2 separate regions of the Homo sapiens genome follow, and region 2 is linked to region 1. The links come from fine-mapping of genetic effects on gene expression. Tissue or cell type: pancreas. Region 1 holds a variant in brackets; the other region holds the start of a gene. All regions are shown on one strand. Distances are between the middles of the regions.

Region 1 (2,678 bases):
GCCAGTCCAGCCTGAAGACCCTACTGGAGCCCAACACTTTAACCTGAAGTTGGGACATGGTGACAACCCTGGTGGCCCCTCCTTGGGGTGGGATGAGACCTATTTCCTGCCCCGCCCCCCGCTGGGTTAGAGGATCCCCCACAGCCACAGCCCTGCCTCCGCACTGTGCTCTGGCTACGATGTCCCAGCGAATGTCCTGCTCAACTCCAGAAATCCCCAGGGAATGACGAAGGCTCCTGGACACAGAGGCTTTGTCTGGAGCTGTCACCCTTTGGGTGTGGTGGGGGTAGCCAGACATTACTAAGCATCTAGGAAAAGGCAATCATCTAAAATCAGAAAAGAACCCCTCTTTTCAGAAGTCAAAATTTTTGCAAGCCAGGACTGTATTTCCCAAAAGCACAATTCAACAAATGGTTTGATATCAACTCTTATGTATATCAGCAACTCCAGAAAATAGGTCTTGGACCCTCAGTTGCAGATCTCTGAGTGTGTGCTAATTTTGGTGGGGGTTGGTAACATGATAGATCCTGAAGTTGAAATTACTCCAGATCACTTGGGGTCCAGAGCCAGGGAGCTAGGTCTTTCACTCCCGTCTCTCAGTGAAGCATTTGCAGTGGGTTCCTCTGCTCATGTCTTAAATGTGCAAGAATCAGACATATGGGAATGACTCAGCTCAGCCCCGACCCCAAGCACCTGAGGCCCGGCAGCTGCCCTGGAGGAGTGATTCTGTGATTAGCAGAAGAAAGCTGATGTGCCGCTTCTGGCTGTGGGTGACTATGCTGGGCTCAGGCAATTGTAGACAGCTGGAAGAAAATATGTTTCCCTACCCTGGGCAGGAAAGACTCTGGAAGCCTCCTTGCAGGGACGCCGCAGCCGTGTGTTGGTTCTGACTGGTACTGGGGTGGGAGGGAGACGCCTGGATCAGGGGCTTCAAGCCATTCTTCTCCTTCAAGGCAAACAGACAGACGCTTGACGGCAGGGCACCCTCTGGGCTGGGCAGCCTCAAATTTAGGTCCGGGGCGGGACTGTTTTGAGAAGCAGGATCCTGCAGAGGCATGGAGGAGGGGTATGTGATGGGATGGGGTGGGTTCCCTGCGAGGATGCGGAGGGGTGCTGCTTCATCATGCACCTGCGCGGGGCTCAGGGGAGCAGTGCTGATTGAATCTGGCCGTGGTGCTCCCTCTTTGCTAGGAAATGCACAGCTCTGAGCTTTATTTAGCAATGGACC[A/G]TTGTGCAGAGATAAAGAGCGTGCCAGACACATCAGTGCAATGGTGTCTCCTTCGCTGGCCACAGGGAACAAGCCCCTGATAAGCCGATCAGTCTTCTGATGGTGACTCCCTGTATCCTCAGCAACGGAGCCAGACACCTAGGTTATCATGCTTCTTCCCCTTGAGGCAGCGTGAGGGCGACATCCTCAGCCTCCGTTGAGGAGGCAAGGGGGCCAGGCATGGGTAACCAGCTTCTCTTTGTCTCCGGGGTTTAAAGGGAGTCTAAGCATCCCTGGTGTGAACCCACCATTGGCACCATCACCCTGGGCCCCTTTACCATCCTTGAGGGCTGTGGCCAAAGACCTGGAGCCCATGGGGTTGGAGCCCAGAGAGGACATGGTTAAGGGAGTCTGCACCTTTCTTACTGTATGGCCAGGTTCATTCCCCTCACAAATACAGTGTGCACACAGTGTGCACAAACATATGCACTCCCACACCCACGCGCGAGTGCACAGGGGCACACATGCATACTCACGTATACGTAGCCTGTATACACATAAATGCAAATATACACATACGTGCATACACCTACATATGTGCATATACAGAGACACACGCATGTGCACACACTTATGTGTGTACATACATGAACACACCTGCGCACACCCACATGTGTGTGCACACAGACATGTATGCATGCACCTCTGCATCACAGCGTGCGCGCGCACACACACACACACACACACACACGGCTCATGATGTCTGAGCAGTTGGGCTCCAGAGTCCAGCTCCTGAGTCTCCCCCTGGTTCTGCCCTGGTGCATCTTTCTGGCAGGTTCCTTCACGTCTGTACATCTGTGTTTTATTCTTTAAAATAGCAACAATCATCCTACGTACCTGAAAGGATTGCCATAAGGATAAGATGCGTAGGGGCATCTAGAGCCTTAAAACACCCCCTGGCACACAGTAGGTACTCTAGAAATGCCAGCTAGTGCCAGTTCTCATGCGGAGGGAAACGCATTCTCAGATGTGGTCTCCCAATCCCCACGCTCTCCTGTGAAGCCACACCAGATATGCCCACCTTCCCGAAGATGCAAGATGTGCCCCCTTTTCTGAAAATGTCAGATGCCCCCGCCTTTCTGAAGATGCTGGCTTCCTACCTGGCGCCTCCCTCTTGTTCCATTCCCGTCTTCAGCCTCAGGGACGCCAGCAAGAGAATGAATTGGAAGCTTATGGGGGTGGACGGATGCTCCTTTGACAAGCTGCAAACCCCAGGCCTGAGGGTTCTCCAGAGCCCGGCTTCACCAATTACCCAAGGGGAAGGAGCTCTCTGCCACAGACCAACACTTCTTAAAACATTTTTGAAAACATTAATCCCTAGATAAGTGAAATACAAGTCCGCATACAAGTAGTCATACAAAAGATAACCTCCAGTTTTTATTATTGGATTCAAAGGCACTCACTGCCAAAT
Region 2 (2,678 bases), 740 kb before region 1:
CTGCCACCACACTTCCCTGCCTCTGGCCCTCTGCCGGGAGTCTTGGTGGGGAAGTCACTGTCTTCATCCTCCTGCCCGGGCAGAGTCCAATCCTGTGCCTGGCTCCTCAAGACCGTTGGCAAAGATCCTGGAGGCCTGGGGGTGAAAGGGCTGCTTGGGGGACTTAAGCCCCAAGCTATGGTTCGCCTGGGAGACTGAGCCCCAAGCCATGGTCCTCCTGGCTCTGCCCTTCCACCCCCTCACTGGCTGCCCCTCCCAGGGAGGCCTCACCTGTGAAGTGCTTCCCGCCCCTCTCACCCCCCACGGCTCTCACATGGCCTGGGGCGATTCCAGAGCTGGCCTGGGTCAAGCACCTGCACAGAGCACAGAGCGAAGGCTCGGCATGGTATATCCCCCGCCCCTTGCACCTTTCCCCAGTGAAGGGTGGCACCAGTGTCCTTTCCAAGGCCCGGATTCTGCACTGCCCTCAGCCTGTGGAGGATTAAAAGCAGGGTTTTGCCGTGGTTTCTCAAGGCGTCAGCGGGTCTGCAGAGGATTCCGCCCCATGTCACTTCTCTCAGTGAAAGGTCCCCGCCCAGCGTCTGTCCTCCTTTAAGTGCCCCCCATTTGTTTTTTGTTGTTGTTTTTGTTTGTTTTTTGCAAATACAGACTAACCAGGTAGGCACAGAGGAGTCCTGGCATGGGAAGGGAGCAGTGAAACGCCGGTGGAGAGTCCGGGAGGCCCAGATTCCCTGGAACTTTCCAGTGACTCCTCCGGAGCAAGGGCCTGGCCAGGCAGCAGCTGCGCTGGGCGATGAGGGACCGTTGGGTAATTGGGGGCATAGGACCGGGCTTCGCTGGGTTCGGGGCAGAAGCGCCGAAGCTCCGACCCGGAACGCGGTGACTTCATCAACGCAGAAGCCCGCGCAGCCGAGCAGAGGAGTCCCTCGTAGGCGACCCTCGGACAGACGCTCCTGCGCGGCCCGCGTGGCTCAGCTCCGCCCCAGGAAACTTTTCGCGCAGCCCCCGCTCCATGCGCCCCCACCCAGTCCTTCTTCGGGGCCGCCCCCTCCCCAAAGTAGCTCTCCGGGTCCACTGGGCGCCCCCGTAACCGGGTCGGAACCTCGAACGGCTTCGCGTGCCATCCGGTTACCCTGGCAACACCATCCGGCGGCGCCCGGCGGTCCAATCCTAGCCTGCGGCCTCTCTCGAGCCTTTCGCAAGGTGGGGACCGGGACGCGACCGGGGATGGGGAAGGGGGCTGCAGGAGGCCCCGCCTGCGCTGTCGCCCCTGCTGGGCACAGCGCCCCCCACCACCCGCGGCGACCCCGGCCCCCGCAAGGTGGGGCGGCGAGCAGGAGCCGGGGCCAGGCCAGGGGCTCGAGCTCCCGTTCGAGGGGCGGGGAAGGCGGGTGACGTGAGCCGGGCCGGGCGGGCGGAGTTGGGACCGGCTCCGGGAGGCGGGGGCGAGCGCGCGGAGAGGCAGACGCGAGGAGGGAGGCGGCTGAGCAGCGCGGGCGGCTCTGCGGCGGGCGCGGTGGGCGCGGGCGGCGGGGCCCCGGGATCCCCGCGCGCCTCCTCCGCGCGGCGCCGCCGCCGCGCGTCCCCACGCCCCGCGCTCCACGGCGCCCTCGCCCCGCGCGCCTCTCGTGCCCGCCTCCTGCCAGTCTCCGGGCCGCGGCCGTCTGCAGAGCGAGCGCTCAGACGGAGCCCCCGGGCAACTTGAGTGGCGCCGATCGGCGGCGGAGCCTCTGGCAGAGCCCCCCGACCCGGCAGCGCGGAGGGGACTCGCGTCCGTCCGCGTCGCGTCACCCCAAACCCTAAGCAGCGCCGCCCCATCGGCGCGGAGCTCCGGCTGGAGGCAAGAGCCGCGCGCCGGGAGACACGCACCGTGAGCGGCAGCGCCGCCGGCCTCCCTCCTCGCCGCCCCGGAGGGCGAAGCCGCGGCTCCCCAGCCCTTTGCTGCGCCGCGACAGCGCCGGAACACGCCCCGCCTCGCTGCCGCCTTCGCTGTGCCGCCGGCGGAGGGGGCCGCGAGCCCCGCGCCCCGGCCGGAGGATGTGCGCCCCCGCGGGCCGCCCAGCCTGAGCCATGCGCCCCAACGGCGGCGGCGCGCCGGCCGGCATGGAGCCCCGCGCGGCCGCGCTCTGACTCGCTGTGCGCCCCGCGGCCGGCGGGCGGCGGGAGGCGGCGGACCGAGAGCCGGAGACCGGCGCCGCGGGACGGAAGCGAGCGGGCGCGGGCGCCGCGCAGATGGCCTGGGCGAGCCAGGTCTGAGGCCCCGCTCCCCGAAACGTGACCATGTGGATTCAACAGCTTTTAGGACTCAGGTGAGCGACCCGGCCGGCGCCGGGTGCGTGTGGGCGCGTGGGTGCCAGGCTGGGCGGAAGCGGCGCTTTCCTCTATGTTGCAAATCAAGGGACCCCTCTTCGCTTCCCGCAAGCGGGCAACGGGGTGCACCGGTAGCCGGAAAGGGGCGCCCGCCCGGAGCCTGGAGCAGCACCGCGGCCCTGGCGGGGAGCGGCCGGGTCTCCAGGGTTCCGCGCGTCCGGGGTCGGGGCAGCGGCGCCCGCCCCAGCAACCCGGGAAGTGGGGCCGGCCAGGCGCGCCCGCAGCTCTAGGAGCCAGCAGCGCAGTGTCCTGGCCGGCTGCCCCGGCGCGCCTCCTCCCCGGGGCCCGGGGCGAGGCGCCGGCCGCTG

Which allele goes with the higher level. Positions count from the first base shown, and alleles are read on the strand shown. Sizes are in standard deviations (SD) of each study's normalised expression.
With allele A in place of G in region 1, the expression in pancreas of the gene that starts at base 1,464 in region 2 is higher (small effect, 0.36 SD a copy in GTEx).

The links. PIP is the estimated chance that this variant, and not a neighbour inherited with it, causes the effect.
Region 2: AJAP1 starts here. The variant in region 1 is fine-mapped to the expression of AJAP1 in pancreas (GTEx, PIP 0.90).

What each region holds. Positions count from the first base shown.
Region 1 is chr1:5,390,007-5,392,684 of GRCh38, forward strand. No RefSeq gene overlaps it. Among named protein-coding and RNA genes, the nearest start is that of LINC02782, 290 kb to the left of the region's middle. The variant A/G (reference allele first, on the strand shown) is at 1,229.
Region 2 is chr1:4,653,146-4,655,823 of GRCh38, forward strand. It overlaps AJAP1 (adherens junctions associated protein 1), which reads left to right and starts at 1,464. Exons shown (of 6, transcript NM_018836.4): 1 at 1,464-2,309. The coding sequence starts at 2,281.